Linked DNA regions of Homo sapiens: region 1 is linked to region 2. Evidence: fine-mapped expression QTL. A gene starts in region 2. The other region holds a variant in brackets. All regions are shown on one strand. Distances are between the middles of the regions. Region 1 overlaps PFKFB3 (6-phosphofructo-2-kinase/fructose-2,6-biphosphatase 3). Region 2 holds the start of LINC02656 (long intergenic non-protein coding RNA 2656).

Region 1 (5,371 bases), 120 kb before region 2:
GATTTCACTTATTTCATTAATTTTGAAGGTTACAGGCCTGGAAGATTTTGGTTGTCAGACATTAAGATTTGTTTTCAGAAAACTGTTTGTTTTCAGAAAACTGGTCTTTTCCTTTACAGCCTGGAACCCTTGCAAATATGTGAGATGTAGGAATTTCTGTGCTTAAATTCAGGTACCACCCAAGGGTCTGCCCTACCTCCACCCTCCAGGCCTGCCCCCACAAATCAGCCCAGTGCAGCTTCCGGTCAGGTTTGTTGATGAGCCGGATGCTGGTGCTGGCTCTGAGCATCCTTTTCAGCCTGCCACCTCTTCCCGCCTTTTCCGAGACTTCCTTAGACCTCATGATGTCTGGAATGTGACCTGGGAGATGCTGCAGCCTCCACAGGTCACTTAACCTCTCCAGGCCTCAGTTTTTTCATCCAGGCAATGGGGGAATAATGGCAGTGCAGAAGTCAGATCAGATGAGGGGATTCATGCCCTGCATCAGGCCCAGTGTCGGGCATGTGGTGGGGACGCGTAGACACGGTGAGGTGGCTGTGATTAGCGGAAGCCTGGAGGCCTGGCTTTGGTGGTAGCTCCACACTAACATGAGTGCAGCAATTTAATTGCCCAGGTTCCTTCCCCTCCCAGGCCCTCAGTCTCCTTAGCTTTGCACATGATAGGAGCAGGACTGGGAGAGCTCTCATACATATTCCCTTGCAGGTCTCAGATCTGAGGGTTTTTATGAAAAGCCAGCAGAACTGAAATGGTGTCCCTGTGGCATCCGTTCTGATGGAAATGTGCAGTTGTATTTGGAAGTTCAGAGGCCGCTGCTTTGATGCTTGGGGGGACCAGGCTGGGGAAGGGGGTTGATATCCTGAGCTGCACAGACCTCCGTCGTGGAGGACGCAGTGGCAGGGGCTGCATCCTCCTGTCCGCTTCAGAGCTGCCCCTGGCGTTGGGAGGACAGTCCTTCAGGGTGGCCAGGTTCTTAGGGACGTCTGAAGCTGCTGGCTGGGCCGGCGTGGGGTTTTTCAGGGCTTCGTCCCTGCAGATTGCGCCCTGCCTCCTGACTGACTTCTCTCTCTGCTTCTCCTCCGCAGCCTTTGCTAGGGCAAGCCTGTCTGTAAGTATCTCTCCGATCATCGCTGCTGCTTGCACTGCTTTCTTCCTGCTTGCTCATTTGGCCTCCTGCCTGTTAAAATATTGAGGATGAGAGCAGTTTTGTGATGTGAGGTCTTCCGTGGGGGAAGGAGGAGATGGGCGTAGGAGTAGGGAGGAGAGATTCCTGAATGTTTTTGGAAAAGCGTGCAGGCGGTCATGGTGGCTGCACTACTGTTGGGTGTGTTCCGACACCGCCGCACGACCGCTGGCTTCTCCCCTACCCTCTCAGGGCTGCAGGTCGTGGTGTGTAATGGCCGTGGTTTAGGGCTCGGCATAAATCCACATTTCCTTATCAGAATCAGATCTTGGTGGCGAGCTGCATCTGTGCCAGGTGCCATTAGCCTTAAAGCCCCCTCCTGCCCCAGGAGTGTCCTTTGTTTTGGAAGGAAAACTTACTCAGAGCCTAATCTGTAAACCAAACCTATGGGGAATAGTGGGAGTGTGGTGGGGCCTGAGCTCTGAGCCTCTCCCTCCCCATGAGGACCCCCCACACCCCAAAAGAGCTCCGAGTGGAGACCCTTGGGGATCCGTTTGTCCTGGGTTGGAGCCTGCTCAGCGTCATAGTCACGCCCGGGGCTGGGTGCAGCCTCCATCTCTAACCCATGTGGTCACTTCTGCTCCTCCCAGAGCTCTCTGCAGAGTTTCAGGTTCAGCCTTAGCTCTGGCAGCCACTGGGTAGCTGGGGCTGTGTTCCCACTGCTCTGGGATCCCTTCCCCACCAGGAGCAGAGGCCTTCCTGCCACAGAACTTTAATGACAGCCACATGAAGTGTCATCCCCTTGCCCCCCCAAAAACACACCCGCCCCTTTATTTCCTGTTTGCTCCTTAAGTTACCTTAACTACTTTATGCAGAAACTGGAAAGGTGTGATGAGGAATGCAGCCTGAGATGCTGAAAAGAATGACTGGCTTTGGAAATGGGAGAGGTTTGGCATGGCGCTCAGATTTTGGTGGCAAAGGGGTGAAGGGCCAGAGGATGTACCAGTGTCCTCCATGTCCACGTTCCTTAAGACCACCCTGGGAGGTCGGCAGGGCAGTCAGTCCCCCGTTTAATGGTTGAGGGGCTGAGTGACCGGCCCGTGCTTCCAGCAGGTGAGCCGCAGAGCCGGGGCCTGAAAGGCCCCTTGCTTCAGAAAGCCGGCCGCCTCCTCTCTGCGGCTTCTGGGAGTGGGCTGGGTGCCCGTTCCCTGCTGCTGTCCTGAGGCCCCTGCCCTGTGACCCGCAAGGCATGGGCAGCTGTTGGACCCTCGTGTACCCCCACAGCCACCCCCTTGCAGCTGCTTCCCACAGCCAGGCTTTGCTTACCTAAGGTGGGCCTGCCCTTAACTTCCAGCTTCTTGGGGCGCACCCTCCATCCTCAGGGCCAGTGTCTGTGATGCGCGGGGCCAGCGTGCAGTGCTTCAGGATCTGGGCTTCTCCTTGTGTGAAACTTTTTGGACTTGGAGCCTGAAGGTTTTACATCTGTGCATGTCCTGATCCTTTAGACCAGCAGTCCCCGACCTTTTTGGTACCAGGGACCCGTTTCGTGGAAGAGAATTTTCCCCACCATGGCAGGGTAGGGGATGGTTTGGGGATAAAACTGTTCTGCCTCAGATCGTCTGGCATTAGATTCTCTGAAGGGAACGCACAGCCTAGATCCCTCGTGTGTGCTCCTCCGAGTCAGGTGGTAATGTTGGCCCACCCACCACCCACCTCCTGCTGTGTGGCCCGCCTCTCAGTGGGCTATGGACTGGGTACTGGTCCACAGCCCAGGGGTTAGGGACCCCTGCGTTAGACACGTGGCCTCATGTTGCCAGGAAAGAAATCTTTCTACTGGGAGGAGCCATTCGGGGATAGTCCCCCACCCGCTAAAGCTGATCTTACCTATCTCCAAGATGAACATAATAGTGCGTTTGCTAGAATCCCTCCTGTTCAGCAAAAATACATCC[G/A]ATGGACCCATCACACCTGACTCAGGTTGGAATTTCACTCTGGAGTCCCATTGTCCCGTCCATCCTGGGTGCGTGACCCCACATCTAGGATTGTAGCCACATCTGATTCTAGGAGTCCACCTGGGCTCTGTGACCAGAATTTATGATGAAAGTCAGACCAAGCCAGGCCTGCATCTTGGTTCTACTCCTCCTGGCCTCTATCCTTGGCACTCTGGGCAAGTTAAAGCAATTCTAGGACCTCAGCTTCCTCATCTGTAATATGGAGATAATAACTTCATAAAGTTGTCATAATGAGACTATAGATACAGCACTTAGCACAATATCTGGCCCCTAGGAAGTGCGTGGGGGATGACGGCTGCTGTTGTTATCAGGGAGGAACTTGGTGCCCTGGGCCTGTGGAGACTTCTGGGCTTGCTGGCATTGGGTCAGCCTTTGGATACCCTCCTGTAACCTGAGGGATTTCTTCTCTGGGGCAGCAGGAACACCCAGACTTGGGGAGGGGAAATCCCTGGGGTCTCAAGGCCATGGCCTGAAGTCTTTTTTTTTTTTTGAGATGGAATTCTGCTCTTGTTGCCCAGGCTGGAGTGCAGTGGCGCGATCTTGGCTCACTGCAACCTCCTTCTCCCGGGTTCAAGCGATTCTCCTGCCTCAACCTCCCGAGTAGCTGGGATTACAGGCGCCCGCCACCATGCCCGGCTAATGTTTGTATTTTTAGTAGAGATGGGGTTTCACCATGTTGGCCAGGCTCGTCTCAAACTCCTGACCTCAGGTGATCCACCCGCCTTGGCCTCCCAAAGTGCTGGGATTACAGATGTGAGCCACCACGCCCAGCCTAGAGTCTTCACCCCTGTGATCTTGGTTTCCCAGTAAGATGGGGACGAACAACTGTCCGGACCTGGTGCTCTGGGGTGCCTTCCTGGGGGCTGTGCCGGCTGCTTGGGATCGAGAGATCACCTGGCATTTGTGATGCAACCTTCATTTTTAAAATTTCAAATGCACACTAGAAAATCCTACTAAAGATTTTCTTTTTTTTTTTCCTTTTCCAACCTGTTTCTTCCTCTCCCCCACTCTGCTTGAAAGACGAACTGTCTGTCACATTTTCTCAAAGTTTTCTCCTTACTAACTGTGGAAGGTAAATGCCTGGGTGCATGTCCCTCTGTCCCGCACCGCGTCACGGCATCTGGGTCTGTGTGCAGACTGGCCATCGTGCAATGCGGGGCTCATCTGTCTCCATGCCGAGGTTGTTAAGTGCAACACCATTGTCGTGAGGTCCTTTCTAGTCTGTCTCTCACCCCCCACGTGTCCTGAGCTGGGGCCCCTGGGTGAAGGACGTGGACATCACCCGGTCTTGCAGGCTCTCCACTGTTATTGTTGCATCGCCATCACCTGTGGGTGCCGGAAGCTGTGGGCTGGTGGTGTTGAGGACAGGTTGGAGCCAGCAGATGCGGAGGGAAATGTCAGCCCTGCTCTGTGATCCCACAGCCCGGCTGGGGCTCTCCCTAGATATGAGGACCCAGGGCTCTCTGAAGAGAATTGCCCCCTCCCAGTGGGCACCCATCACTTCCATCATCCTTCGGCGGGCACCCATCAACCCCCGCAGGCAGCCGTCATCCCCTGGCAGGCACCTATCACCTCCTGGTGGGCACTCATCACCTCCCGGTGGGCACCCATCACCTCCTGGCGGGCACCCATCACCTCTCGGCGGGCACCCATCACCTCCCGGTGGGCACCCATCACCTGGGTTCCTGAGTCTGGCCCACGCCTGGGCGATAGCTCTGATGCTGCCCAGCCCCGTGACTTTCCTCCCTGTGGATGGCTCCAGCCTTGGACCCCCAGTTCTGTGTGGGGTGGGCATGGGCCACGGTGGCCCTGTGTGCCTGGGCTCTCTCCCACCCTCTTTAGAGCAGTCCAGGTGGAGACACTCAGGACTGGAGAGAATAGTTTTAAACATTGTGTGTTTTCTTGTTTTTTGAGGCGTAGGTGAAGCAGGTCACGGAAGGAGGCCCGCTGTGCAGTGGCTGCAGTCAGTTGTGTTCCTCGCTGATTTTGGAGCATGTTTTTTTGCGGGGGGTGGGTGGCGGGGGGGTTTGGTACTGGCCAGTGCCTTAGGGGTGGAACTCCCTGCGAGGGCCACTGTGATCAGAAGTGGGGCAGGGCTTTAACAACACCCCTCTGCCTGGCTCCCCACCTGGGCCTCCCCACCACGTCCAGCCATTCCATGTATCACCTGTGTTCTGCCTGTCAAGCTCTGTTCCCAGAATCTGGATGCAGGAGCTGGGAGTGTGGCTCTGTTTTGAGCTGA
Region 2 (5,370 bases):
TAAATACTCTACATTATGGTTTTTTTTGTTTATTTGTTTGTCTTGTTTTGAGACAGGGTCTCGCTGTCACCCAGGCTGGAATGCAGTAGTGCAATCATGGCTCACTGCAGCCTTGACCTCCTGGGCCCAAGTGATCCTCCCACCTCAGCCTTCCAAGTAGCTGGGACTACAGGCATGCAACACCATGCCCAGCTAATTTTTAAAATTTTGTTGTAGAGACAGGATATTGCTATACTGCCCAGTCTTGTTTCCAACTCCTGGCCTCAAGTGATCCTCCCCCGTCAGCCTCCCAAGGCATAAGTTACTGGTGTGAGCCGCTGCGCTGGCCTATATTATATGTTTTTGCTGCTTCTGTTGGGGAAGAATTTGGTGTTTTATCTGAGAGAGATGACAGGAACCTTGGCCAGATGCCACCCCCAGAAACTCAGTGTCCTTCTGTTGGTAGCTGCTTGCCTCTTTGCTGCCCCTATCAGAGCAGAGTTGTTCATTTGCTTCTCTGAGCACATCTTGTGTGGAGTCTCGGGCCCCAGACAGCAGGGCTGCAAATGACACACTCAGCTGCAAGGCAGCAGTGATCTGTGGACGAGATTCAAATCCAGAGAAAAAAACGGAAGCCTCGAACTGCATCTGAAAACCAGCGAGAAAGAAGCAAATTCCTGTGAAATGGCACAGGCATCATTTCAGCGTTGACTCATTCTGCTCAAACCTGTCACCGCTCACACGGGAGTGGTCGTTGGAATAAGGGACTTCTCCTCAGGTGAATGACAAAGAAACACAGATTTGGATTTGCCCAGGTGTCTGGAGAGGAGGCTGCCCCTGGATGCCGTGCCCCACTGTGCAGAAAGGGGATGCCCGGGGCATTGTCACCGCAGCGAGTCTGCACCTACCATCCTCTGGCCCCTTTCTGCCACCTCTGCAGCATCTCCAATTAAATTTTAAAAAAGTAAAAGTGGGGACAAGAATCATCTGCCTGCCTGTGTTTGGCCCTCCTTCCAAGTTTTTGTGTTCTGTTTGAAATCAAACTTATGCTTTCTTCCAAAATGAATGACAGAGAAAAAAGAAAAAGCCACCCAGGCTTGAAAAGTGGTAGCTTCTTGCCGCCGACTTCCTGCCGGTGCCAAGTCAGAGGGAGCTCTGCGTGTCCTCAGTTCACCCTCGCCAGGCCACACCGCATGCAAATAAGAAGCTGTTTCAGTGTGTGCCCATCTGAGACGCTGACATAAAAAAGGAAGAAAGAAAGGAAAAAAACCACCGTCACCACCAACAAAAAAACCCAAAACTGATTAATTCTCGTAGATTGCAGCAGAGCAGGGGGCCTGGTGGTGACACATCCTGTTTTGCTGTTCAAGTTGTCATCCCCCAAGCCAATAAGCTCCCTCATGAACGGCACCAGTTATGAAGGGTGACAAAGAATTCAAAACACTCACAGGACAATTTTCCTAACCCTTGGTCTCTCGGAATGCTATTTTTTAGGCTAATTTGTTTTGATGAGAAAACTATGCCTGCTAGGCCTATTTTTAAGCCAGATTTGAAGTCAACGCAGTTGGTATTTGATCTTGCAAGAACGACAGAGGTGTCAGCAGCAGCTCTGCCATTTAAGAGCTGTAGCCTGGTGGGACACCGTCCTGCAACCAGGGCCCTAGCACAAGAAGTATCTCTGTTGTTATTTGCTTCTCTTCTTTGAGATCCATACTTGATTTGAAAAATCACCACTTGAGCGGCACCTGGTGATTACGTAACCATTCAACTCTGTGTTTTATCCTAGGGCTAGGTAAGAAATTGAAAATCCAGCCTGAAATAATTAGTTTAGCTGCAGACAGGGTGTATTAAACAGACTCAATTTAATAGAGCTAGAACCATAAGATGAATGTATTTATCTTCAATCAAAGATGACATGTTGGACAGATTCCTTCATTCATCACTTTTCTGTTATGTTTAGCCCTAAGGGAAGTCTTTTTTAGATACGTAAGATGCACCTTCAGGGTTAAAGCATCTAGTCCAGTCTGAATAAAACATCAAAAGCACCTACAATCCCAAGCTCCTTCAAGAACTTTGCAGGCAGTCTTCGGGTGAGTTTGGTAAGACTATTAATCGGAGTAATGAAATAAAGTATTATCACATCTATTTATTTTTCTCATTTTCTTTTAACTTCTCTTTTGTGTATGTTCTAAAATACACATAATTTTCAGTTCATAGGGCATTTTCCCCTTGTAAGTAAATATGAATATATTTCAGAGTGAGCTCAAAGTTTTACGTTAGATTTAGGTAGGCATTTTTTTTTTTTTTTTTTAAGATGGAGTTTCACTCTGTCACCCAGGCTGGAGTGCGGTGGCTCGATCTTGGCTCACTGCAACCTCCGCCTCCTGGGTTCAAGCGATTCTCCTGCCTCAGCCTCCTGAGTAGCTGGGATTACGGGCACCCACCACCACACCCGGCTTATTTTTGAATTTTTAGTAGAGCTAGGGTTTCACCATGTTGGCCAGGCTGGTCTAGAGCCCCTGACCTCAGGTGATCCACCCACCTCGGCTTCCCAAAGTGCTGGGATTACAGGCGTGAGCCGACAAGGTAGGCAAAAGTTAAAAACAAAAAAACAAAAAAACAAAAAAAAATTTGGAATAGTCTGTAACAGAGGAGGGCTTGAAGAGAAGTGAGGTGATTTGCAGAAGCATCAGCCAGGAGGCATTCCTCCAGGAGAAAAATTTTTACTTAAAGGAGAGAGCTTAGTGATGGAGAAGGAAAAGATCTCGACAGACATTCAAGATTAGAATCATAAGTTGGCCATTGATTGGGTGTGGCTCTGGGAAGTGGAGGTGCTGTGGGCAGGGGCTGGCTTGGGCAATGAGAAAATGGTGTTGCTTATGTGCCCACTCTGTGCTGGGACTCAGCTGTGAGTGCCTCCAAATTCACCACATTTATCAAACCTCAGTGCTCTGAGACAGCATATGATGGCCTAGCAGGATGTCCATTCTTTTCCTGGAACCACCCATCCAGTTATCTCCTTGAGTCGCCTGGGTGGTGAAAAGTGGTCTCATGCACAATGGATGCGGTGTGATCCCCTTGCTATGTCACGCATGGCGTCTGCCCTCTTCCCTGGCACCTGTGCCACTCCAGGTTATGCCTGTGCTGCTGCCCATTCTACGCCCACCTGGAAAGCCTGAAACCTTCTCGTGCCTTCTACTGCAGCTGGGGAGCTTCTTCCACGTCTCATAGCCAGCTTCTCCAGAGGGAACTCCCAGAGCTGACTGTACTTTCCTACCTCAGCCTCTTCTTCCTGGGATGGTGTCAAAATATGAACAGATACAGCTTCATGCTTTCAGGAAACCACCTTCTCTTCCATCTTCTCCTTTGGCCTGCTCAGACAGCCAGACTTCTTAAACATATTTTTCCTACAGGCTCATGCAAATTAAGGGATGTGGCTGAGCATCTCCTTCAGTGCCCTCAAACAGGTCATGAATGTTGCAAAGCCCAGAATCGTGCTAACCTGGTAGAAGGCTGGTTTAGCCAGAACACACAGAGAGGACCTTCTCATGATGGTGTGGCTGAATTCCACATGTCACTAACAGTATCTTGCCCTGACCCGACTCCAAGTACTGATCCCCAAGGAAGGCATAATAGAGAGCCCATCTTGGGGAGGGATGATGACTTCATGTGCAAACAAGTCAAATTCAGGATGTGTGTTGTGGGCAGAGATGGCAATGCCCAGTCATCTGTTAGGTATACAGGTCCGCTGTACAGGAGAAAAATCAGAACAGAATTTCTATTTGTAGTGTTTCTTTTAGAGACTAGGGAATTGAAACCACAGGTGAATAAGAATGTACAAGGAACCAGGCCTTCTTGAAGAAATAGCTGAACCAGATTGGTGTCAGGAGCTGTACAAGGGGATCCAAGAATGTCTTGTCATACAAGCCGGACAGCTATTAAAGACAACTGAGGTCATGGCAAAAGGGCCCAGGCTTCTACTGGCCAACAATGAGACAATTTGAGCATCCCAAAGAATAATGACTTTAGTGGACTGAAACACATCAACATGTATACATCCATGAATTCATAATACTCAAAACGGTAAAACCAAACTCATTTGTTACCTTTGGAGGAGTCTGTCACCTCTGATTATTCTGAAAACTGGTAAATAGAAGGGGAAAATTCAAGCATTTATTCTGCTTTTCTTGTATAAACTGTACCTCACAGTTACGGAAGAGCTGATAAGGGAAATGTCTTCTTTATTGAAAAATTCAGCTGATACATTTGGAAGGAATGAGAGAATTACAGTACCACCATTAGGTGACAATGAGGGTCTGGTTTTTTATTTTTCTTTTGCTGAGTGCTGGGAACATAGTGATAACAAAAAAAGCCATAGTGTTCTGGCCCTTCTGGAGTTTTGATTCTAGCACATTAACCAAATAATCCCAGAGCAAAAATAAAATGTCAACTATGGTAAGTGTAGAGAAGGGAAAATACACAGAACTTTTAACAGCTTAGATCCGAGGAAGCTGACCAGCCTGCAAAAAGGGACAGCTTCCCTAGGGAAGTGACTTTGCAGCTGTGATGATGGATGACTAAGAGTTAACCAAGGAATGGGAGGAGGGAGGAGGAGACAGAGAAGGCTTTCCAAGCAGAAGCCAGAGCATGTGCAAAGATCCTGTGGCAAGAAGGAGCCTGGTGCAGGGGAGGAACGAAGAGACATGCAAGCTGGCTGGAGTGCAGAGAGGGAGACAGGCAGGCAGGCAGGTGGTTGGATGGGGAGGCAAGGATCAGATCCTGAGTCCCTTGGAGAAGCAGGAAGGCATCATGATGACTAATGTCAGAGGCAGGGGAGGACAGGTAGGGATAGACAGGGAAGCAGTGCTGGGAAGATGCTAAAATGCTGCAGTTTGTGCTTGGAAAGATCATGGCCTGGTTCTTCCATTGTCATGATGGGTTGTTCTCTTTCTTATTGTTTTTCTAATTTGTCTTGACTAATGGAGAAGATCAGGAGCTCAAAAATAGAGGTTGTTTACAGCACTCAGTTTGGCTGCTATAGGTTAATGGGCTTAGACTCTTTAAGGGGATTAGGCTTTTGCTCAGAGACCAGTGGAGTATTCTAGCCAGGCTGTCTTGTGAAGGTGGTATGTTAAGAACTAGGTTTGTCTGATTTCTCAAATTAAAATGTGGTACATCAAATTAAATTTGAATTTCAGATAAATAACAACTAATTTCAGATGTGTCAGATAAAGAATGGATATGGCTCTAGTACAATATGGGATAATGAATATTTTCAGATAAATAGATGCCCTGTATTCTGTGTAGCAAGCATAACTAGAGAATCAATGTTAGTGCTCAAACTAAGAAGACTTTTGAGAAATTATCAGAGGTAAATACAAATATACATTT

The links. PIP is the estimated chance that this variant, and not a neighbour inherited with it, causes the effect.
Region 1: its variant is the best candidate, but not a certain one, in a credible set for the expression of LINC02656 in whole blood (TOPMed, PIP 0.78).

What each region holds. Positions count from the first base shown.
Region 1 is chr10:6,227,114-6,232,484 of GRCh38, forward strand. The region is part of intron 14 of PFKFB3 (6-phosphofructo-2-kinase/fructose-2,6-biphosphatase 3); the gene reads left to right. Among named protein-coding and RNA genes, the nearest start is that of PFKFB3, 27 kb to the left of the region's middle. The variant G/A (reference allele first, on the strand shown) is at 3,070.
Region 2 is chr10:6,347,032-6,352,401 of GRCh38, forward strand. It overlaps LINC02656 (long intergenic non-protein coding RNA 2656), which reads left to right and starts at 3,285. Exons shown (of 1, transcript NR_148966.1): 1 at 3,285-5,370. RefSeq lists a cis regulatory region at 979-1,479.